Homo sapiens: one gene and its partners. The protein of the gene in region 1 purifies or fractionates together with the protein of each later gene. This does not show direct contact. Each region holds a gene or a part of one and is shown in the gene's direction. Other genes may lie near its edges. The genes, in order: CSGALNACT1, ARFGEF1, PKP1, FAM234B, FBP1, SPINK5 and DSC2.

Region 1 (3,500 bases):
CCTCCATTTCCCAGATTCAAGCGATTCTCCTGCCTCAGCCTCCCAAGTAGTGAGGACTACAGGCGCCACCACCACGCCTGGCTAATTCTGTATTTTTAATAGAAATGGGGTTTCACCATGTTGGTCAGTTCAGTCTCGAACTCCTGACCTCAAGTGATCTGCCTGTCTCGGCCTCCCAAAGTGCTAGAATTACAAGCATGAGCCACTGCACCTGGTCAGGAGAACAGTCTTGGTGACTCAGTTCTCAAGCTTAATTCTCCTTTTGGCATGGTGAGTTTGGGGTCCTGAGATTCTATTTTTCTTTCACAATCGGAATCATCTGCTCCTGGCTGGTTACTTGGAAGGGGGGAAGCAGGACAGAGAATAAAGCAGCATGCCTGCCTGGCAACCACTACAGTCTGCATTTGGGGGCTGCAGCCTCATGGCCATGGTGCGGACCTTCCCAAACCACACCATCACACTACGTTGGGCACATCAGTGATTTGAGTTGAAGTGTGTCATTGTGTTTGAATGGTTCTGCTGCCTTTCAATCCACTGTTGAGCAGGGGGCACTCTAGTCTAGTGATGGAGTCCCTGCCCAATGAGCACTGCTTCAAAATGAGGATATGGGGCATTGATAAGTGGCCTGACTACTTGAAGAAGCCAATTCCTCCTCATCTTGTCATATCCTGTTCTAGAGCCCACATGGCCAGTACTGGTAAGTTTCAGATGAGGAGGCTGCCCCACTTCTAGGCCCAGGAGGTTTGGCAAAGACAGGAAGTTGTCTTGATTTTTTTTCATGGTTTTTCCAGTTCAGTCCTCTTTTTTGGCAGAGGGTCTTGGTAATTATCAGAGGCTCTTCCTGATGGCAAGAGAGGAGTTGGAGGGGTTCTTTCAGATCACTGGTTTATTGGAAAAAAGCCTTGGGTTGAGGAATCAGGAAGGAAAATTGTACCATTATTCATCCTCAGACGGACCCCTAGCTGAGCATAATGACCTGGCAGCCACCCTGGGAAACACAGATGGATGACAGAGTTAGCACTCTGGGCCTTCTCCAGTGTCTGTGACTGCCTGATGGTGCTTCCCAAGCCAGCAGTGACTCTGTCCCCACCCTGCCTTCTGTGCACACTCATGTTCAGCTCTCTCATCAGGACCTGGTGAGTGGTCAGGGCTTCAGAGCAGCTCTAACATGGACCCATACTGCCAAGCCAGCAATGTTGCCTTCTGGCCAGTGTTGATCAGGGTGGATGAAAGTCCCAGGCAAAGCTAGATCAGGGCAGAGTCCTGCGTGGGGCAGGGAGAACAGGCAAGCCGAGGTGTCTGGTGCTGTGTGTGTGTGCGCCGGCCCCCATATGGTCCACATGGAAACAGTGCGTGGACAGAGCTGGGTACCACTTCCCAGGGCTTTCTGTGCAGCCTGTGGACACATGAAGTGAATTCAAAATGCATATTCAGATTGGGTAGTGCCATGGATATAACATGCATTGTCTTTTCCTTGTAGAAAGGTTGCATGAAGAGAAAGGAAGCAAATTGCCTTTTGCATTAGGCCATATAAAGTGTTCCCCAGCATCCATTTGCCTGAATTTTCTTTCTCTAGAAGCAACACATCATGGAAGCATAGGGATTTACATTTTAAGGCTTAAAAAAAAAGTTCTTCCAAATTAAGGTCATGTCAGACACTAGGTACCTTAAGTTCTTCCCACCCCTTTTCCCATGACTATGACAGGAAGCCCATCCTGTACCCAATCCTCTGTTGCAGCAGAGGAGAGAACAGCATTTATTAGCAACAGCTCAAGCCAGGGTTAGGGGATTCATGCACAGAATAAACTAGATTAACTTGTGCATTAGGTAAGCATGCACACCACCAAATTACCACTCTTCCCTCTAAATTTGTAGCACTGTCTCTACCGTTCACTCAGCAGTTAATCAATCACTTGTAGACTCGTCATTTCTTTCATGCTGTTTCCTCAGTTTCTAACACTGTCTTGTATTCTTATTTAATTACTCAACATGATTTAACTTTTGTAAATATTTGGCCTATCTATACAAATGGACTGTAGGCTGTTCAAGGGGGAGATTCTTGATGTCGCAGCTCATTTAATGCAGCCTATTAAGAGCCTATGTTCTTCTTCCCTTGGCAAAAGTCACTTGCTGTTGTTCAGGTATTTTTGTAGTTGAACTCTCCTGTAGTAGATCCTAGAAACCCTCCTGGAGAAGGTACCTGAATTATGAGTCAGGTGCAACCTGAGTGAGGAAGGACTTGCTCATACATTGTGTTTGTGCTCTGAAAGTTAGAAGATATCCCTGTATAATGGGGAGGAAGAGGTCCCAAAAGATAGGAACCTGGAAACAGCGAAGAAAGAGAATTGCTACTGGCTGTATATATTAAATACATAGAAAGTTAAAGCAAGATGGACTCCAGGATCAGGTGCCTTTAGATGAACAGGTAAAAATCCAGGCATCTCCCATGGGTAAACCTTTCCTGGAAACTGACCAAACCGGGAAGGGAAAAATGGGTTGACCTGACTTACAGGAGCTGGGGCTGCAGACACCTCTAAGAGACATGAAGGTGCTCGCAGTGACCTCACACCATCTGAATGTCTTTGGAGACGGGAGGATAGCGTGTCCTTGACTGGTGCCATACCTAATACTGAAAAGGTTTTGAGCATAACTTCAATGCAACACACAGAAAATGTGCAATGGGGGCACCCCCCCAGAGAAAAGACTCAAGATAAAGTTCTGAAAGAGGAAGAGAATCCCTGCAAATGTAGAGTGGTGCTGAAGTGAATGCAGGATCATAGGAAAAATAGAGTCTTGTCCAGGTGTGGTATCTCATGCCTGTAATCCTAGCACTTTGGGAGGCCGAGGCAGTAGTACCGCATGAAGCCAAGAGTTGGGCAACAAAGTGAGACTCTGTCTCTATAAAAAATTTTTAAGAATTAGCTGGGCATGGTAGCATGCACTTGTAGTCCCAGCTACTTGGGACTTGGCTGAGAGAAGAGGATTGCTTGAGCCCAGGAGTTTGAGGCTGTAGTGAGCTATGATCATGCCACTGCACTCCAGCCTGGGTGACAGAGCAAGACCCTGTCTCTAAAAGAAAAAGTGTATTATATACAAGTATATATAATGTACATATGTAAAGTAAGTTTTTTTAACCAAAGAAAAATAGCGTCTTAGTGTGTAAAGGGGAATTTGAGCTCTGTAACCACTGGATTTTGTACCTGGAAACAGAGACAAAAGGGGTAGAGTGACTTGCCTCAAATCCATCAGAGGCACAGCTAGGTTTAGAATGATTCATACATTCATACACTCATTCAGAAACATCTGTTGAACACTTATGGGGCCCCAGGCACAGTTCTAGTCCTGGATCCAGGTTTCCAGACTCCTAGACCAGTGCTCTACCCATCATGAGGCCTCCTAACCTGATCCAAATCTGAAAGGCATGTTTGGCATCAAACTCTGACATGGGCTCACTGATCCCTAAGATAAGAATCCAAGCTCACTCCCAGATCCAAAAGAAG
Region 2 (3,500 bases), about 48 Mb from region 1:
GTACTCATATCCTAGATGTACTTTGTTGAAATTAATGTTATATTGTTACAGATGCTCAGAGTGTAGTGGATATTTATGTAAACTATGACTGTGACTTAAATGCAGCCAATATATTTGAAAGACTAGTAAATGATCTATCAAAAATTGCTCAAGGAAGGGGCAGTCAAGAACTTGGTATGAGTAATGTTCAGGTAAGAACTATAAAAACATTTTCAAATTTAAACTTTACCAGGAAAGAGTCATGTGTTTTCCTTAAAAGACCTTTAAAAAAAATTTTGTTTTTGAATTACTTTGTAGGAATTGAGCCTGAGGAAAAAAGGTTTAGAATGCTTAGTGTCGATTTTGAAGTGTATGGTTGAATGGAGTAAGGATCAGTATGTGAATCCCAACTCCCAGACAACTCTTGGTAAGGTGATATTTTGAGCTGTAATTCTTTGTCATTTTAAGTGAATAATACTTTGGAGGATAGTTGCAGCTGCTGTTAAACCAATTTCATGACATATTTATTCATTTAACTGATGAGGAAACATTCTCTGTGAGTTAAATGTCTAGCTTTAAAATTGTGAGATTTTTAACTTAGTTATCCAAACTATTTTTTTCTAAATCTTCTTAGAAATATTTTGATTATGTAAAATGAAGCATATTTATGCAACTTTCTTGTATTATAATTATAGAGGAAACATATAAAAGGCAGTATGTTTTAAGAAGGTTGAATTGTTCATCTGTGTTTGATGTTTACCCTCACTCAGAGAAAAACTCATAGCTGCAGGGCTACACTGGTATTATCGAAAACAATTCCTCATGAGGAGTGAGCTGAGAGCAGAAATCCAGTGGATACTCAGCACTGCAACTGCAAAAAGAACTCCTCCTAATGGTGCAGACTATACACGTACAAATTACAGTGTGTTTTAATATCAAAGTATGTTGTTTACTATGTTACCTAATAGTTATTTTGTATTAAATAGATATCTAAGCAACATTGAAACGCCTTGCCTTATTCAAGAATTTGTTTGCCCTTACACTTTTTTTTTTCTTTGATAGAATAATGTACTCTATCAATTTTTCTTCTTTCAGGTCAGGAAAAACCCTCAGAGCAAGAGATGAGTGAAATCAAACACCCTGAGACAATAAACAGATACGGAAGTTTAAATTCCCTGGAGTCAACATCATCATCAGGAATAGGCAGCTACAGTACACAGATGTCTGGCACTGATAATCCAGAACAATTTGAGGTCCTAAAGCAACAAAAAGAAATAATAGAACAAGGGATAGATTTGTAAGTGTCATAGCTTAAGGAGAAATGTTATTGAATATCTCTCTGCCAGTATAGTGCCACCCCTGCCGTGGGTTTATCACCTTATAATGAGTAAAATGGAGGATAGTTCTCATGGATCTAATTCACGAGGCTCCTATTCAGCCCCCCTTGTTCATTGCAGTCTAGCCCAACTAGATTCCTGTAATGCCCAACCACTCTTGTCATATAAATTAATTTGTCACCATATTATAAGTGCTGTTGATGGGTATCATCTGTGCAATTTTGCACTGTTTAGCTCATGACATCCCCCCATTATATTTTCTAATCATGTGACAACTCAAAACATTTAAAATATGAAACTTCTAATAGCTATCAGTACTCCTTTATAGGTCTTACATTTTTTCCAGCTGGCTTACAAATGTACTATTCTTGTTATTGATTTCATTTTTATATGTTGATGAGGTGATCACCTCTCTTCCAGCCTGGCTAGTGTACCGGATCCTAATCTTGTGAAGTCAGTTTTCCCACTAAGCTTTGTGATACCTGCCTGCTCCTGGACTATTTCCTTTGTGAATGTCACCATGCTGCCTTCCTTTCTCTTGTTGCCCATCTCTTTTTTTCAAAGAGATGCCATAAGGAAAAATGAAATTGTTTGCCGTCTCCATGAATCTAACTATTATAAACTTAAAAATTCCCCTGTGTGCTTACTTGGTTTGCTACTTCTGTAAAGCATTTCTTCCTGATACTTAAGCAGTGCCTTTTAGTGAATGTTCAGGTGTCTTTTTTCTCCAGTGTTAATATGAAAAACAGTTCAACAAAAATGTACACATATTCTATTTTAAAATTACAAAATCTTACCAAATTGCCTCAGGAAATAGCTGTCACTACTGCATTAATTCTAATTGTTCAGTCAATATTTATTAAAGTCTCATCTTTCCAGATATTATGCAAGATCCTGGGGAAACTAGATACATGGAAAAGCCCTTCCTTCTGAGAGGCTCTTGGTCTAGTGTGTGTAAACAAATATGCATATTGAAATTCTGCTGGTCACCCAGTAAACACATATTTGGTACTTGGGACTATTGCCAAGCACCATGAAGGCATTGGTCCTTGTATTCAAGATTGCATTCTAAACATGAGCAATTTTTAAAAATAGTACTGTGTAAATGTTTATAAAAGAGTGTCGTACAGAGTAAGTACTGCCAAGGTACTTATTTTGAAGTACTTGAGAAATGAGAAGGAGTAGTCAGAGGGCTTCGAAGTGGAAGTCTCCCAGTCCTTCTCTCAGCAGCTAGACTTGCTTTCTACTTAATACAGCCATTGATGAGAATGCTTTCATGGAACTGTATTCCTAGTATACTTGTCTACAACTGTTTCATGACACCAGTCTATCCTGTTTCTCTCCTACCTTTTTGACTATGCCGTCTCAGTCTTGTGGGCTGTTTTTTCTTTCTTCCTGCGTGCATCTTAGCATTGCCAGCGTTCTGTTCCTCAGCCCTTTTCCAACATCAGCCCCTTAGTTCTCCTACCCAAAACAAAAGACAAATAGAGAAGCCTGTTATTTTTGTATTTCTTATTTATGGTAGTAACCCCAGCATGCTACTAAATTTATAAGCTAAAATCCTGGGAGTTAGCTTAGATTTTCCCCTCAAAGGATTAGATTCTCGAATCTAATCTGTCACTAAGACTTGTTGATTATACTTCCTAATATCCCTGCAATCTGTACTCTTTTCTCGATCTCCCACCACTATTCTTGCAAATCAAATCATGATTATTTATTTCCTCAACTAGTATAATCTTTCAATTGGCTTACCTTTTTCTTTGGTTTTGTTCATTCTTCAGTCTTTTCCCATGCTTAACTAGAGTAACCTTTCTTGAATGAAAGTCTATTTTTTCCCTCTCTTAGAGAATAAAACCAAAGCTGCTTTGAAGGTATGATAATACCTTCATGATTTGGATCTGCTGGACTCTAAGCTTCATTTCCTGCCACTTTTCTGTCTCACCTCACTTTCCAACAATGCAGAACTATTTATTATATAATACTGTCTTGTGCTTTTGTGTTTTAGTATGGCTTCTTCCTCTCTTGCATGTTTTTTCTTATTGTTTATAAAAGATATAATTGTTCTTCAAAATAGTTCCAGAGTCACCTTTCCCAGGAAATATATTATGACCATCTAAGTTAGTTACTTCTACTGTGTTATTTTCTTACCTTGTGAATACATCTATTTGTCACAGTTTTAGTATT
Region 3 (3,500 bases), on another chromosome or scaffold:
GAGCCACTGAGGACTGGAGGAAGGGCCCCTGGAGCCTGTCACAAAATGCCTGTCTGCACTCATGCTCTCCCTGAAATGCCACAGATCAGACAAGCACCTTGCCCTGGTCATGAAGGCCCCGGGCAGGAAGAAGGTGGCTTCTGTGGCCTGGAGACCTTGCAGAAGGAGGTTGCTCTGAACCTGCCTACCCATCTTGAACTGCCCCTGAAGTATTGCTCCCCTGTGTTTTCAGGCTGTCCCTGTGTGCCTCAGGGTGTCTGGCCTCCTTTTCTTCCCAGACTGTGTGGAAGGCAAGGGGAAACTGAGGGGGATGTCACCACCCAGCAAAAGATCTTTGCCAGGGAAATGACCTCCCTGAGGATGGGGAAGGAAACACTTATCCACCTTCCAGATCTTTATAACTTCACTTGGAATCTCTTCCTAAAGCTGAACCTGAATCTCACTTGCCCTAACCCAAGCGCTCCCCCGCCACTGTGAATACAGATCACACCCAGCTCAGTGAAAGGAGCTTCCTTTCACCTGTCCTGTCTCCTTCCAGGGAAGTCCTAACAACACCAGCACCATTGCCTGCTTTGTCTCACTGCCTGCTTAGCCATCTGTGATTTTTTATTTCAGCCTTTGGCCTGAAATTCTCTTTCTCCCTTCTTCATAGAAGTACTGTTTCCCATCTAAAATTGCTAAGCCTCTATTTCTCTCTGATCAGAGGTAGGGGCTGGAGGCAACATTGAGCCAGGGGAGGTGCCTGCTCCCTTTCTGTAGTTCCTGTGTCTATTCAGCCCTCATCAGGGGAGAGGGGGGCATGCTTGTACGAACTCCGCAGCCTGCACAGTGAAGGAGCTCGCCTCAGGAGCCCCCACTTTGATGGCTTTTTGTATTTGTGTTTGACTATGTCTCAGCATGAGCTTCTGCCCGAGTGTTCTGCTCATTAGAGTTTCTAGAAAGTTGTCCTTTCCTGACCACAGGCATCACTTCTGGGGTTGTTTTCTTGGGACCGAAGCTGAGATTGCAGATGGTAATGGCTATGTGTGCTTTAGCTTGTTCCATTGGCGAAACATACCAATTAAACTTCAAATGAACCAATTCTTGTTTCTTTACAATGTACCTTGGCTTGAAGTTGGAGTTTTAGCCAGAATTTCCGTTGGCCTGTTACAACACATGCAAAAATGCTGGGTATTCTAGGGTGTTTTGCAGCAAATGCTGCTTCTCTGGATCCTGCTCCTTGACAGAGATTTTTTAAAAGTACAAATTCCTCCCCCGACCCCATACCATTGTAAGTATCATTGTGCCAATTGTTCTAGGTTTAGAAATCTGGGAAGCGCTTCTGCGATGGGCCGTGACCCTTACAAGATGTGTAATGTTTGAACAAAATAAAATGGACGAATGTTAGATATCTTCATGTGAAGTTCCTTCTAGGCATACGCTGGACACATGCGCACACATGTATACACACATAGGTCACACATGCATATATGCATGTATACACAATACACCCCACACATGAATCCACACACCCACACATGCACACACGTACACACACATAACATGCACACACTTATGTTATGTGTGTGTACATGTGTGTCCTTGCAGCTGTGCTGTGTCAGGAGCCCAGCCTGGCATCTACCTGGTGTGCGATCTTGGACAAGTCGCTGCCTCTCTTTGGGTCTCTGCAGCTGTCAGAGGTTGGATTAGATCATCTCCAAAGTGCTTTGCAATGGGAACACTCTTTGGAAATAGATTTTATAACTCTCTAGCTCTGCAAACCATTTGCCCAGACCGCCAGCAGCTGTTCTGCCAAAAAGCTCTTCCCCTTAAGGCATGCCACTCATCGTGTCTCTCTCGTAAACATCCTAACATATTAAAAAGTCTTCTCATCCACTCTTCTCAAACTTGGCTACATATTGGAATCACCTGGAAATTTCAAACAACACAAATGCGTGAGTCCCACCCCCAGAGATTCTGACTTAGTGAGTATGAAAGATGGCACGGGCATCAGGACTTCAGAAACTCCCAGGTGATTCTCATGTGTAGCCAAGTTGGAGAACCACTGTTCTAGTCCCTGTCCTTCACTCACACAGATCCAGCATGGGGGAGCACCCCTATACAATGACATACACCCATGTCTTTCTCTCATACACACACACACACGCACACTTAATGTAGTAGTTGCTGGCGAGAGCCTTTGACTCTGAACCCCACCTGAACCCGTCAACCCTTGCCCACTCTAACCCACCACCCTGCCCCCTCACGCCCATCCTGTCCCCACAGGATGCTCCCATGCTCTGCCCAGTCCTCAGGCTTGGTGGTGGCCATGAACAGATCTGCTGAAAGAGCAGCAGGATTGTGGCAGAGCTAGGTCTGAACGCGTCCCAGCAGAGCCTGAGGGAGTCACATGGGCTGGAGAGGGAGAAGAGAGAACACAGGCCACAGCAACCCAGTTTGTTTCAGCATTTCTGTTCAGTACGTACACCCAGGAAAAGGTCAAGAGCCACACCAAAGTGCCCGGTGAGGCTGTGCTGAACTCCTTGCCCTCCCCATCTCCTAGAAGCTGCCGAGTTGGGGAGGCATGTCCACGGTGCTCCCAGCAGCCCAGCAGAGGGGGCAGGAGGCTGGCCAGCCCAGTCCTCCCTCCAGGAGCTGGAACCATCCCGCAGACACAGTCCACTCCTGCCCACTCCGAAACACCTCTGAGGGTATTCTCTCAGCAGTAGCTTCCTGGCAGTTCTTGTTATCTCATTTAAATTCCTATTGCTGTGGGCCTAGCTTTTCTGGGCACCATGGGTGAAAGAGATTTCAGAGGGTGAAGTAAAGGCATTTTCAAGACTAAAAGAAAATGAGCTTCCTTTCTCAAGCTTTTCATGCTGAAGGACAGGTGGGCTTTATTCAAAAGTAGAATATGCTAGAAGAAGCATCGGCCTTAAGGGAGACAGAGTAAGCAAGAATGTGTTCCGAGCAGCTTGCCCTGTGACGAAGGAGAAGGATTTGAGGGGAGGGAAAGTGGAAAAAGCGGATTTCCCTATGACCTCTGTCTGCAGGAAGGCTGATGTCCTGAGAGCCTTCTCTATGTAGAACCTGGGCCTGGGATTGGGGGTGTGGAGTGTGGATCTACCAAAGGTGAAGATTCCTTGCTTCAGGGAGCTCCCAGCTTGGTTGGGGAGACCCAGGCCCTACCTTCTGGGAGGAGTGCACACACACACACACACACACACACACACACACACACAGTGTACAGAAGCCACATTCCAAGGAGCCCACAAGCCAGTGCAGAGTCAGCCGCTGGATTGAGTGCTGACATGGTTATGCTGGCAAGTTTGGAGTGCTCAGAGCTGGGTGCGGTCATCTTTAGGAGAAGCTGATTTTTGTGCAAGGTTTTGAATGCAGGGGGAGGGTTGGAGAAGAAGAGAAAGAATGTTTCAGGTGCAGTAAGTGTGACCTATTTGAAAGCTTGGAGGTGGAAGAGGATGAGTCATCCCTGCAAAGGCTCACCTGCCCCTACTGGAGAG
Region 4 (3,500 bases), on another chromosome or scaffold:
ATCTTGTCAGATTCCTCTCTTGGGACCTGTACATTGCCTTTTCTTTTCTTTTCTTTTTTTTTTTTTTTATTTTTTGAGACAGAGTCTCTCTCTGTCACCCAGGCTGGAGTGCAGTGGCATGATCTTGGCTCACTGCAACCTGTGCCTCCCAGGTTCAAGTGATTCTCCTGCCTCAGCCTCCTGAGTAGCTGGGGCTACAGGCATACCACCAAGCCCAGCTTTTTTTTCTCTTTTTTTTTTTTTTTTTGTATTTTCGGTAGGGACAGGGTTTCTCCATGTTGGCCAGGCTGGTCTCGAACTCCTGACCTCAGGTCATCTGCCCACCTCGGCCTCCTAAAGTGCTGGGATTACAGGCATGAGCCACCGCACCAGGCCTGCCTTCCTTTTTTTTCTTACAAGGGAGAAAGCATTTTCCAGCTGTAGATAGTGGTTTGAAAGAGTTAGTGATTACTATTTTGAGCTCTTTGAAATATGTCTCTTATACAGGGGAGTTTCTTTCAAACACATTCTTGTAGTTAGGATCAGGCATTAGCATCTGAGAGGAATGAGTAATCACCATTTTCTACTCTGCCTTTTCACCTGAGGACTGTCACGTGTGGGAATGTAGCGTTACCTTTGCTCTTCCTTTTTGCTGCTTATTATCAGGATATCATCCTAGGAACTGAGCCGCCCAGCCTTCACCACCTTTACCTCCTGCATCCTGCGTTCCCCTCCATCCTTCTGGATCTGGCCAACACCACCGGCACAGTGACGGCTTCAGAGGGTGAGTCCCAGTGCCAGCGGGAGTCTGTGTACGCAGATGGTGGGAGAGTATGTGTTGGCTGTGTGTAATGAGACCATTGCCCCACCCAGGGAAGGATGTGTGCTTCTCAGACGACAGCAGGGCACTTTCCCTGGTGTCCCTGGTGCCTCTTTGCTGGAATGCTCCCCTGGGTGGAAGCCCCGGGCTCACAGGGTGAGAACCCATATGCTCTGAATGTGGAGGTGAAAGCGCGTCCCATTCCAAAGGGTCTGTAAGGTGATGATTCATCCAGCCACTCCTTCAGCAGACATTTAATGAGCATCATCTGTATGCCAGACACTGTGCCAGGTGCTGGGACTACAAATAAGACTAGTTTCTTGACCCACTCAGAGATTAGGATTTGGAATTAACTGTGAAGGACATGATGGAGATAGAATGTGTTTTGCCAGGGCATTGATTTAGAAAACCTTTTTTTGAATATAACTGTGCACCCTGCATAGAAATTGGAGAAAGAAGAAAAATCAAAGGAAGAAAGAAAAATTGGCCATAATCTGGCCACTCATAACCACTATTAGCATTTTGGAAGTGTTCTTCTACTTTACATATCTGTCTAAATAACACTGTAAATAAAATGGGATCCTATATGGGAGACCCTCAACTCAGGAAACCAAAGCATTGGGATTGCAGCCTCTGCTGCCTGCTAGTCTAGGTTGTCTGGTGATCTCCTCAGCGATTCCTTCCCTCATGGAATCTGCTGTTCCTGTTGGGAGGTCAGGGAGTGCAGGAGTGGGAGAGGACCAGATGACCACATCTCCTTTCTTTCTTTCCACATTCTCTTGCTACTTATGGACTTGGCTGTCTACTTACAAACTCATTGGCCTTGGGCTGCAGCTGGTGTTTGTAGCTCTCTCGATTTATTGGGATACACGGGGAAGAACAGCTTACCTGGAACTTGCAGGCACACCTGTCCACTGATTGGGGGGTGGGGGCAGGGAGGTATGAGCTTGGAAAATCCTGTGATTAGATCTGAGTGAGCTGTTTTTTCAACAGTAGCATAAAATATTCAGTGAACATCAAATAATGGTAATTAAGAATCTTGACACCATTTTTATTACAACTTGTATTTTATTTTATTTATTCATTTTTTAAATTTTATTATTATTATACTTTAAGGTTTAGGGTACATGTGCACAATGTGCAGGTTAGTTACATATGTATACATGTGCCATGCTGGTGTGCTGCACCCATTAACTCGTCATCTAGCATTAGGTATATCTCCTAATGCTATCCCTCCCCCCTCCCCCCCACCCCACAACAGTCCCCAGAGTGTGATGTTCCCCTTCTTGTGTCCATGTGTTCTCATTGTTCTATTCCCACCTATGAGTGAGAACATGCGGTGTTTGGTTTTTTGTCCTTGCGATAGTTTACTGAGAATGATGATTTCTAATTTCATCCATGTCCCTACAAAGGACATGAACTCATCATTTTTTATGGCTGCATAGTATTCCATGGTGTATATGTGCCACATTTTCTTAATCCAGTCTATCATTGTTGGACATTTGGGTTGGTTCCAAGTCTTTGCTATTGTGAATAGTGCCGCAATAAATATACGTGTGCATGTGTCTTTATGGCAGCATGATTTATAGTCTTTTGGGTATATACCCAGTAATGGGATGGCTGGGTCAAATGGTATTTCTAGTTCTAGATCCCTGAGGAATCGCCACACTGACTTCCACAATGGTTGAACTAGTTTACAGTCCCAACAGTGTAAAAGTATTCCTATTTCTCCACATCCTCTCCAGCACCTGTTGTTTCCTGACTTTTTAATGATTGCCATTCTAACTGGTGTGAGATGGTATCTCATTGTGGTTTTGATTTGCATTTCTCTGATGGCCAGTGATGGTGAGCATTTTTTCATGTGTTTTTTGGCTGCATAAATGTCTTCTTTTGAGAAGTGTCTGTTCATGTCCTTCGCCCACTTGTTGATGGGGTTGTTTGTTTTTTTCTTGTAAATTTGTTGGAGTTCACTGTAGATTCTGGATATTAGCCCTTTGTCAGATGAGTAGGTTGCGAAAATTTTCTCCCATTTTGTAGGTTGCCTGTTCACTCTGATGGTAGTTTCTTTTGCTGTGCAGAAGCTCTTTAGTTTAATTAGATCCCGTTTGTCAATTTTGTCTTTTGTTGCCATTGCTTTTGGTGTTTTAGACATGAAGTCCTTGCCCATGCCTATGTCCTGAATGGTAATGCCTAGGTTTCTTTCTAGGGTTTTTATGGTTTTAGGTCTAACGTTTAAGTCCACAGCCAATATCCTACTGAATGGGCAAAAACTGGAAGCATTCCCTTTGAAAACTGGCATAAGACAGGGATGCCCTCTCTCACCACTCCTATTCAACATAGTGTTGGAAGTTCTGGCTAGGGCAGTTAGGCAAGAGAAGGAAATAAAGGGTATTCAATTAGGAAAAGAGGAAGTCAAATTGTCCATGTTTGCAGATGACATGATTGCATATCTAGAAAACCCCATTGTCTCAGCCCAAAATCTCCTTAAGCTGATAAGCAACTTCAGCAAAGTCTCAGGATACAAAATCAATGTACAAAAATCACAGGCATTCTTATACACCAATAACAGACAAACAGAGAGCCATATCATGAGTGAACTCCCATTCACAATTGCTTCAAAGAGAATAAAAGACCTAGGAATCCAACTTACAAGGGACATGAAGGACCTCTTCAAGGAGAACTACAAACCACTGCTCAAGGA
Region 5 (3,500 bases), on another chromosome or scaffold:
GGGCAGGGAATCATGTTAATCTGCTACAGACATTTAAAAACGACATTGTAAAGTGGCTAATTTGGAGATGGAAAACTCCCAGTGATGTGCTGGTAAACTGGGTCTCAAAGCAAACAAACAAGTCTCTGATATGTCCACTTGCCTCTGTCAATGGTGTGAATACTCTCCCATCGTTGATTTTAAGCTACCAATGTGATATCACTGAAGGCAGAGTTGGGAAGAGATGTGCACCGTTAGCTCCTGAGAGCCGATACCAGCCAGCTCCTGCACACCACTGAAAATCCCACTCAAAACAGGAATCTGCGGTATTCCCACTACCACTGAAAGTTATCTACTTTGGGAATTACGCTAGAAATTTGTTTTGTTTAGTTTTGTTTTTAGAGACAGGGCCTCATTCTGTCACCCAGACTGGAGTGCACAGTCATGGCTCACTGCAGCCTCGAACTCCTGGCTCAAGTGATACCTCCTGTCTCAGCCTCCTGAGTAGCTGGGACTACAGATGTGCAGCATCATGCCCAGCTAATTGAATTTTTTTTTTTTTTTTTTTTTTTTTTTTTTTTTTTACAGAAGGAGTCTCTCTATGCTGCCCAGGCTGGTCTCAAACTCCTGGGCTCAAGCAATCCTCCTGTCTTAGCCTCCCAAAGTGCTAGGATTAGGCATGAGCCACCGTGCCCAGCCAGGATATTTTTGAAAACTCTATGCACCCCAACCTCAAGGGGCATCTGTAAGACCTCCATGAGAAGTTTCTTATAGATCTCAACCCTAGCAAAGTCTCTGCTTCACCTAAGGAATTATTTTTTTCCTTACAAATAAAGGAAAATGAGTGACTAACCTTCTTTTTCCTTTGGCTGCCAGGAAACTCAATGCAAAATTATGATTTGATTATATCAACAATATAGGAAATCATGACTTATCTGTATTCCATTACCTTCATCTGCACCTCTTAAGTGGTATTTTCTCTGTTTAATGGTCTTGTGTGTATGTGTGTGTATCTGTGCATTCTGTATGCCATCTCATGCCTTCCATGACAGTACAAATAAATAAGACCCACATTTTTTGAACTTTCTTCTAAATTCCCATTCTTAGCCCCTAATGTATACTCCTTTAGTGTATCTTGCTATAACATTTTAAGGTTGTATTTCTTTTTTCTGTGCTCAGGGTAAATATGTGGTCTGTTTTGATCCCCTTGATGGATCTTCCAACATCGATTGCCTTGTGTCCGTTGGAACCATTTTTGGCATCTATAGAAAGGTAAAACGTGATATCTTAAGCACTTGGTTTGGGGACAGAAGTTAAGATTGAGCATCCAGTCCTATTTCACTGTGGCAGAGCAGCCGGAGTGGAGATCATGAAACTGTGAGACTGAAGTAGATTTGTATCTCAAGTTCTGAGCTTTTCAGCACTAATTGCATGACGAAGACCCACTAGATTGTTGAAAGAGAATATAGGGTAAAATATGGGTGGGAAGAGAAGGATATTTCACTCTTTTTACTATGTCTTACTTTTTATGATAGAAAATGAGATTTAAAAAAGAGGCAGTAGAGGGTAAGTATAGTGATGATACGATGTGAACTCAGAGTTGAGAGTGTAAGACAACAATAGAGACTATGTCAAAACTGTCCTTTAAGTCCCCTAGTCAATGGTCTATAAGCTATGAGCCCCGGGCTGAGTCCAGCCTGTGGCCTAATGTGTACAGCCTGTGAACAAAGAATAACCATTTTTACATTTTTAAATAGTTGAAAAAAACTAAAGAACAAAGTTTCGTGATCCATTTTAAGTTTTACTCTTCACGAATGAAGCTTTAATTGGCATTTGGTCACATTCATTTTTTCACATACTGCCTTTGGCTGATTCTCTGCTGCACTGTCAAAGTTTTGTAGTTATGATAGAGACTGTATGGCCCATAAAACTGAAAAATTTACTATCTGTCTGTCTGTAGAAACAGTTTACTGAGCTTTGCTCTAAGTCGTAGAAAGCACACAGCATAGGATGAGAATCCAGCCCTGCTCGGGTCTCCTAACACCTGACTCGGGCAGTCACCCCTCCTCCAGAGCTGCTTTTTCTGAGAGAGAGAGAGAGAGAGAAAGAGAGAGAGAGAGAGGAGAGAGAGGAGAGGGAGGAGGAGGAGGAGAGGGAGGAGAGGGAGAGGGAGAGGTGCTCAATTATACGAATAAGTGAAAAATAGAATGAAAACCCATCCACCCATCAGGAAACATGATAAAATCCAAGGTACATCCTCTTAGCTTTAGCTCTTGTTTTGTTTTATTTTTTCAAAGTATATATTTTAGGCCGGATGCGGTGGCTCACGCCTGTAATCCCAGCACTTTGGGAGGCCGAGGTGGGTGGATCACAAGGTCAGGAGATTGAGACTGCCTTGGCTAACACTGTGAAACCCCGTCTCTACTAAAAATACAAAAAAACAGCCAGGCATGGTGGTGGGCGCCTGTAGTCCCGGGAGGCTGAGGCAGGAGAATCGCTTGAACCTGGGAGGTGGAGGTTGCAGTGAGCCGAGATCACACCACTGCACTCCAGCCTGGGCAACAGAACAAGACTCCGTCTCAAAAAAAAAAGTATATATATATATAGTTTTAACAGCTTTGGGGGGTACAAATAGTTTTTGGTGACATGAATGAATTGTATAGTGGTGAAGTCTGAGATTTTAGTTTATACCTCACGAGAATAGTATATATTGTATCCAATATGCAGTTTTTTTATCCCTCATCCCCTCCCATCACCCCCTTCTAAGTCTCCAAAGTCTACCATACCATTCTATATTCAGCTCTTGTTTATTTCAGAACTGAAACCTCACAGGCTGGAATCGACTGAAGAGGTTGGTTCAGCTGAACTCTGTTCTAGGACACAAAGGCATTAACTTAAGAACTGAGACCCTTGGCCTAGCGAGATGGCTCACGCCTGTAATCCCAGCACTTTGGGAGGCCGAGGTGGGCGGATCATGAGGTCAGGAGATTGAGACCATCCTGGCTAACACGGTGAAACCCCGTCTCTACTAAAAATTACAAAAAATTAACTGGGCATGGTGGCGGGCGCCTGTAGTCCCAGGTACTCAGGAGGCTGAGGCAGGAGAATGGCATGAACCTGGGAGGTGGAGGTTGCAGTGAGCCAAGATCGCGCTACTGGACTCCAGTCCGGGTGACAGAGCTAGACTCCGTCTCAAAAAAAAAAAAAAAGAACTGAGACCCAAATTTGCACTTTATCTCTAAAAGTGACTTATTGTCTAGTATTATACATAATTTCCTTTCAAATATGTGAAAAGTAGAGCCCCCATGGCACAGTTATCTTTGGTCATTGGAACGTATTTTGCTTTTTATCTTGGGTAAGAGGCAGATCCACATCACAATCAGTTTGAGGAATAGAAGATTCAAATTCTCATACTAGAAAGGCAAAAAGGCAACAATTTATCCATTTTCCAAGTCATGCCAAGGAACATACCATTTCTGTTGTAGACATGGAAGAATGCAATTTTCCTTGCAAAATATCAA
Region 6 (3,500 bases), on another chromosome or scaffold:
TTTTACGATGCTGTGATTTTGGTTATTTTCCAAGTTTAGTAGCTTGGGTTCCTTTCAGCATGATAAAAGCATGTTAAATGTCATAAACATGAACCTAAACAGCAGGGAAAAGCACTGCAGCAATCTGCAAGGATCTTAAGCATGCTTAAATTTGTCATCACCTAAGAGTCATTCTTCAGGCAAAAGCAAGCTGGTCAGTGCTCTAACACTGAGATAGGGCAATGGCAGCTCCTGGAGGGTTTTATTATAATATCTGGAGATGGACAATAGAAGACAACAAATTAGGCCTCAGCCAGTGAGGGAAACAGGAAGAACTTGGCCCTAGAGGGCTCCAGTTTTCCTGGGACATGCTGAGAAAAAGAGAATAACAGCAACAGTAACAAAACAAAACAAAAACAGGCCAGGGACTGGAAGTTACCCTGCAAGTAAACAGGTGCTGAAAAGTCATCTACTCAACTCAGGATGACTTTTGGTCTAAATATGCTTCTGTTTCAACCCTCTCTATTATGGTCATTGAAAGGGTATTCCATTTTGCTCAGAGAAAAACTCAACTGCTGCTTTCCATTTTTATGGTCTTTTCCTGTTTCCCAAGAGAATACATTGGATAATTTCATAACTCAGAAAAATAGCATTGAATCTCATCTTAACTAATTAATCACTGTGAACAAATTTCTTAACCTATTATTTGGGCCTCTGATGCTCAGTTTGTAAGAAAGGGAGTCTTTCTAGGAATTAAGTTCTCATCTAACAGTGATATTGGAGAAGTCCAATTTAGGGATTATTCTTATTGATGCAACTCTTTAATTTTTCTTATAAGTAGAGACAAGGTCTCATTATATTTCCCAGGAGGATCTTGAACTTCTGGCTTCAAGCAATCCTCCTCCCTTTGCATCCAAAATTGCTGAGTTACAGCCATGAGCCACTGCACCTGGCCTGATGCTACTCTTTTATGATAAGCTTTCAAAATTATTTAGAGCTTTATTCCAGGATTATCATGAGTCGTCTATATACTTTCTATAAGACTTACTTAATAAGGGATATATTTTCATTACAAAGACCCCAGGCTCTTCTCTGATTCTACTATATGGATTTTAGGATCAATTATATTCATCAAGGTAAGCATAACTTGCAAAGTTGGCATTTGATACTGTAGAATCAGAGATCAGACAGGTCTCAAGATGCCCAGTTATTAATCTGTGTCCAGAAATTACTACTCTGCTACTCTGATGGAGTCACTGTGTAGCTATAATAATCTTAGAGATATTTAAGCATGCCATCCTTAGCTAAATTTCCCAGGGCTGGTCTGTGATATCGTTTAGTTATTCTCCTTCACCATTAATCATTTTGCAAGTGCTACCAACTGCCTACCATTTTTAAGAGGCTAGATTAAGTACATCATTATTCATCCAGGCAAGTATACTTCTGTTCTACCTAATGCTGTATCTATGTCACCTAGCAAAGTATAGTAATCCAATAATAAGTGATTGCTGGCTCATTCAATGATGATCATAAAGATATAGGAGACTACTGGAGTTCAAGACCAGCCTGGGCGATGTAGTGAGACCCTGCCTCTCCAAAAAAAAAAAAAAAAAAAAAAAAAAAGAAAGAAAGAAAGAAAGAAAAAACAAGCACAAAACACCAGATATAGATATAGGAGCCTAAATAGAAACCTTTAATAAATTTTTTGGAACAGGTTGTGTTTGTCAGAGTTGAAGCAAAAGCTTTGTTTATTTGTTTCCTGATACAAGCAACTTGAAGCAGATTAAAAAAAATCAAAACAAAAAACAACAAAAATCCCCTTAGATTCCAAAGGCCTATTCTAAAGACCTAGTGAATTTTCACTGGGTACAGTGGCTCATGCTTGTAATTCCAGCACTTTGGGAGGCTGAGGCAGGTGTATCATTTGAGGTCAGGAGTTCGAGATCAGCCTGCCCAACATGGTGAAATCCCATCTCTGCTAAAAATACAAAAATTACCTAGATGTGGTAGCATGCACCTGTAATCCCAGCTACTCAGGGGGCTCAGGCAGGACAACCTCTTGAACCTGGGAGGTAGAGGTTGCAGTGAGCCAAGATCATGCCACTGCACTCCAGCCTGGGCGATAGAGCAAGACTCCATCTAAAGATAAATAAATACCTAGTGAATTTTCTAAATTAAAAGGGAATATAACATTTTAAAATCATACTTTACTAGGTAGCAGAAATGCACCATATTTTAAGCTCCTAAAAAAGAATGAGTGATGTATAGCAGGACTTTAATAATAATATTTAATATTATTTATTAATATTTAATATTGAATGAATCAAAGAATTACCACTTTTGAAGATCATTCTACTTTCCTTTTCCCCACCAATTCTATTATTTAAAATGTTTCCCCTGTCCTCCTTAAACTTTGTATAACGGAGTTATTGGTATTTACAAAACCAAAAGCCCAAAACAAACATAGTAGGATTTTAGTTCCAAGGGATGTGCCAAAAAAAAAATTACCAGAGAGAGAGAGAAAGAGAGAGAAAGAGAGAGAAAGCCTTATGCAATTATTGAGAAATTTCCTCAGTACTTCCATAGATTCACAAGGTTTGATTCTGATGGTAGTGATAGTAGTGCTGATGACATTTGTGGGGATGGTGGTGGGGGTGGAAGTATGGGTACTTTCTAAAAAATATAATACAAATTTGAAAATGCAAAATGGTTAGGCCTCTCCCAGAACCTCGGAAGGGGGATGTGACAGTGAAGGGCCCTGAATCTTAAGCTTTATTAGCTTTAAGGTAAGTCTGCCTGTGCTCATAAGTCAAATGATTTATCAAGGGACATGAAGTTCTTTTCAGAAAATAAACCAGTCTAGAAACTTGTTTTCCAGATAAATATAACCAAGAAATCCTTTTTTCATTTAACACTGTTAAAATTTCTAGGAACTGATATGTTGCAGTACAGCCATGGGGAAATGTAGGCAGACATTTTATAATGTTCAATGCTCAAACACCTTGCCTCAGTCCTTCAGCAACATTTTCATATTCCTTTCACAGCAATTACTATTGGCCTACTGTGTACTAGGTATTTTATATGTGTCATCTTAGCATATTCCAGTAATAATACTGACAATCACCAGCAACATCAAAACAATAATAATAAAAAAGGAGGAAGAAGGAAGGAGGATAATTTATTAATTGAATATCTACTATGTATCAGGCATTCTTTGAGGGCTTTACATACTTAATCTTCAAAAAACCTTGGAATTGTGTGTGTATATATATGCAGACATATACATATATCTACATATATATATCAAAATAAAGCTTGTTTTGATGTACTTTTAGCTAACACAACTTTTTTGGCATTATCTTAGGAAATGTGCCATGAATTTCAGGCATTTATGAAAAATGGAAAACTGTTCTGTCCCCAGGATAAGAAATTTTTTCAAAGTCTTGATGGAATAATGTTCATCAATAAATGTGCCACGTGCAAAATGATACTGTGAGTAAAGGTTTCTTTCTTTCTTTCCA
Region 7 (3,041 bases), on another chromosome or scaffold:
GTTTGTACTGTAGTCATTTGATGCCTTCCCAGTGCAGTCATATGTAGCCTTTTAAAACAGAGACTAGAAGGACTGTGCTTCTATGAGAAAGTGCAAGATGAATCAGCCACTCTCCCCACCCACACACTTGAATGCAAGTCAAGACACGGTGGATGTAAGGAGTGGGCTAATGCCTGTAAAACACATCACACAATGCCTGGCACATAGTAAGTGCATAATGCATGTTTTTAAAAAGCTTCAGATGATGTGAAAGAACTTCAGGACACTAGTGAGTGAACTTCTGCTTCTGCTACTCCCAATCCAAGCATTCATGAGGTTGAGGTGTACCCTATGTCAGCTGTTCCCACTCTTCACTTCATTCCTGATCAATATTCCCCCCCGCCAGTACCCCAGATTAAATCTTCAGCATCACTCAGCTCCAATGGTGTTTATGCTTCCAATTTCTTCCCTCTTCTCTTTTTTCAAGGGCCATCAAAGAGCAGATATGATCATGCCATTCTGCCTAAGAGCTTTCTATAGGGTTTTAGAGGATAAATTCTAAACACAAAATCACTTTTAAATACAGATGCTTCTTGACTTATGATGGGGTTACATCCTGATAAACCCATGGTAAATTGAAAATATTACAAATCAAAACAGCATTTTCCATTTACCATATGTTCAACTTAAAATAAGCTTATTGGGATGTAGTCTCATAAGTGTAGGAGAATGCTGAATGCATATTTCTTTGACACCATCATAAAGTTGAAATATCAGATCGAGCCATCTTAAGTTGAGGACCTTCTGTACTAATTTCCCCAATCTCCTTGTATCCTTCATTTTTCAATTTGTGCCTTGCTCATGATTAGTTCTCTTTTTACAATGTCTTTACTCATTGTCTCTTTCTTTGTAAAAATATTACTTTTTGAGGATCTAGTAAAAATACTACCGCCTAGACATTTGTGTGTCTAGAGCACATGGCTGTAAAGTTTTCATCTACAGGTTTGTGTGTGTGTTTCTTTTCTTTCATGTAGGACACTAAGGACCAAGAAAGGTGTTCACAATTGCATGCCTATACAACTCTGGCCATTAATTTTTTTTTTTTTTTTTTTGAGACGGAATCTCACTCTGTCACCTAGGCTGGAGTGCAGTGGCATGATCATGGCTCACTGCAACCTCTGCCTCCCAGGTTCAAGCAATTCTTCTGCCTCAGCCTCCTGAGTAGCTGGGATTACAGGCACCTACCACCACGCCTGGTTAATTTTTGTATTTTTAGCAGAGAAAGGGTTTCACCATGTTGGCCAGGCTGGTCTTGAACTCCTGACCTCAAGTGATCTGTCAGCACTTGGCCTCCCAAAGTGCTGGGATTACAGGCATAAGCCACTGTGCCTGGCCAAATTTTGATTCATCAAATTATATTGCCCAGGTCATAAAGGAAAAAAGAGAAATAATAAAAGTTAGGTTTTTTATTCTCAGCACATACTAATTTTCTGTGGCATAAATTTTACATGATAGACATGGTGTATGTTAGATTCTGCACTGAATTGTTTTTCCTCAGAAGACATTGAATGACTAGAACAATTGTTTGCATTCACAGCTTAATACAGGAAAGTGAAGTGTTGAGATTTTGGAATCCCTTCTCCCTTGGGATAGTGAGAGGGGCAGACAGAAGGGGTAGTGTCTGAATATTGTGGTTCAGGCCAGCTCAAATCCTACCACCAATAATTGCACGAACCTACTTGTAGCCACCAATAATTGCCCCATATTGAAATGTAACCCCCAAGGGTTCTCCTCTGTCTTCTTGACCACTGTATGCCTAACATGTAGAGCAGTAGACACTGAATATATTTGGTGTGTGATGAATAAATGGATGAATGAATAAATGCACATGTGTGTTAGGTACCTGGCTAAGATCAGACTGCATATTGCCTAAAGAATTCTTTTTCTCAACTTGAAAATTTTTAGCCAATGTGAAAATTATGTTTGCGACTGTCACTTCATCATTGCCAGGTTCAAACACTGCAGTGAATTTTTTTTTTTTAACCAAAAGGCCACTCTCTAACCACCTGAGGAAAAGCAACTAAAAACCACTTATGTTTAGAAATTCAAGAAATGATTCTTATGAGTTTGCCAAAATTCCCATTAGTTATTTATAAAATGTTGTAAGTCAGGCCTTGCTTCAAAAAATATCTTGAGAAACCACAAAGCAAAGAAAGTGGCATACATCTACGAGCTTTTTCCATGTTAGGCTGGGAGAACATTCTGTAACAGGAAACCACCGTGCTCATGTGTGCCCTGAGAGAAGAAAATCTTCACACAAGAAGTAGAGAATAGGGAAAGAAATGCATAGCAATGAGCCTCAGAGGCAATGCCTATATTGTGCTGTGAACTGATAATGTCACTTGGAAGATAACACGTAAGAGGTAGTTCCCAGCCCTGCTCTTCTCACGTAGGACATGTAGGACAGACCTATGTGTTTTGCTTTCTGGGGAGAGGGGATCAGTTGTATGACCCCCTTTATTATTTCCTCTTCACCAGTTCTGGTTTTCTAGGTTTGAGGACTGAAATCTTGAGAAGTAGGATCTGATCTTTCTTCCAAGAAGCTCTTCTCTCCCCACCTGTCCTTGTGTTCTTTATCCCATCAATAGCTAAGAAGCAGAACCTATTACTTTTGCTTAAATGTTTTAAATTAAGCAAATAGATACATTATGAGGCTGCATTTTAAACTTTAGATATTTCAAATAAGACATGCAATATAGAGTCTTAAGGTAAAACAAAAGAGCATAATGCTAAAAAACAGGCAACAAAAAGAAGCTAGAGCTTTGAAATAGCTAGTCAGGTAAACAGAGCACTTTAATTTAAAAGAACACACCCTAAATCTTGTTTTATAGAGGAATTTTACTGTGTCATGGATTTGGAGCATATTCTTCTCAAGCCATTTGGTATATCCTAAATTCTAGGTATACGTGAGATTAAAGAAGAGATACTCACTGATGTGCCTCCGTATGGAGTGATAGTTGGTGCATGGGAAATGGCAAGGGCTGTTTTGTTTCATTCTCTCT

The links.
Region 2: the proteins of CSGALNACT1 (region 1) and ARFGEF1 purify together in Homo sapiens (affinity purification with mass spectrometry; 3 studies listed by BioGRID and IntAct, with this or other methods). This does not show direct contact.
Region 3: the proteins of CSGALNACT1 (region 1) and PKP1 purify together in Homo sapiens (affinity purification with mass spectrometry; one large-scale study listed by BioGRID and IntAct). This does not show direct contact.
Region 4: the proteins of CSGALNACT1 (region 1) and FAM234B purify together in Homo sapiens (affinity purification with mass spectrometry; 2 studies listed by BioGRID and IntAct, with this or other methods). This does not show direct contact.
Region 5: the proteins of CSGALNACT1 (region 1) and FBP1 purify together in Homo sapiens (affinity purification with mass spectrometry; one large-scale study listed by BioGRID and IntAct). This does not show direct contact.
Region 6: the proteins of CSGALNACT1 (region 1) and SPINK5 purify together in Homo sapiens (affinity purification with mass spectrometry; one large-scale study listed by BioGRID and IntAct). This does not show direct contact.
Region 7: the proteins of CSGALNACT1 (region 1) and DSC2 purify together in Homo sapiens (affinity purification with mass spectrometry; one large-scale study listed by BioGRID and IntAct). This does not show direct contact.

Annotation. Positions count from the first base shown.
Region 1 is NC_000008.11:19,421,778-19,425,277, reverse strand, and holds part of CSGALNACT1 (chondroitin sulfate N-acetylgalactosaminyltransferase 1), read left to right. Parts: intron 1-3,500. UniProt on the Homo sapiens protein: Transfers 1,4-N-acetylgalactosamine (GalNAc) from UDP-GalNAc to the non-reducing end of glucuronic acid (GlcUA). Required for addition of the first GalNAc to the core tetrasaccharide linker and for elongation of chondroitin chains.
Region 2 is NC_000008.11:67,263,782-67,267,281, reverse strand, and holds part of ARFGEF1 (brefeldin A-inhibited guanine nucleotide-exchange protein 1), read left to right. Parts: intron 1-51; coding exon 52-191; intron 192-297; coding exon 298-406; intron 407-1,074; coding exon 1,075-1,276; intron 1,277-3,500. UniProt on the Homo sapiens protein: Promotes guanine-nucleotide exchange on ARF1 and ARF3. Promotes the activation of ARF1/ARF3 through replacement of GDP with GTP. Involved in vesicular trafficking.
Region 3 is NC_000001.11:201,286,506-201,290,005, forward strand, and holds part of PKP1 (plakophilin-1), read left to right. Parts: intron 1-3,500. UniProt on the Homo sapiens protein: A component of desmosome cell-cell junctions which are required for positive regulation of cellular adhesion.
Region 4 is NC_000012.12:13,075,381-13,078,880, forward strand, and holds part of FAM234B (protein FAM234B), read left to right. Parts: intron 1-645; coding exon 646-763; intron 764-3,500.
Region 5 is NC_000009.12:94,615,519-94,619,018, reverse strand, and holds part of FBP1 (fructose-1,6-bisphosphatase 1), read left to right. Parts: intron 1-1,158; coding exon 1,159-1,251; intron 1,252-3,500. UniProt on the Homo sapiens protein: Catalyzes the hydrolysis of fructose 1,6-bisphosphate to fructose 6-phosphate in the presence of divalent cations, acting as a rate-limiting enzyme in gluconeogenesis. Plays a role in regulating glucose sensing and insulin secretion of pancreatic beta-cells.
Region 6 is NC_000005.10:148,066,980-148,070,479, forward strand, and holds part of SPINK5 (serine protease inhibitor Kazal-type 5 isoform b preproprotein), read left to right. Parts: intron 1-3,343; coding exon 3,344-3,471; intron 3,472-3,500. UniProt on the Homo sapiens protein: Serine protease inhibitor, probably important for the anti-inflammatory and/or antimicrobial protection of mucous epithelia.
Region 7 is NC_000018.10:31,061,381-31,064,421, reverse strand, and holds part of DSC2 (desmocollin-2 isoform Dsc2a preproprotein), read left to right. Parts: 3' UTR 1-3,041. UniProt on the Homo sapiens protein: A component of desmosome cell-cell junctions which are required for positive regulation of cellular adhesion.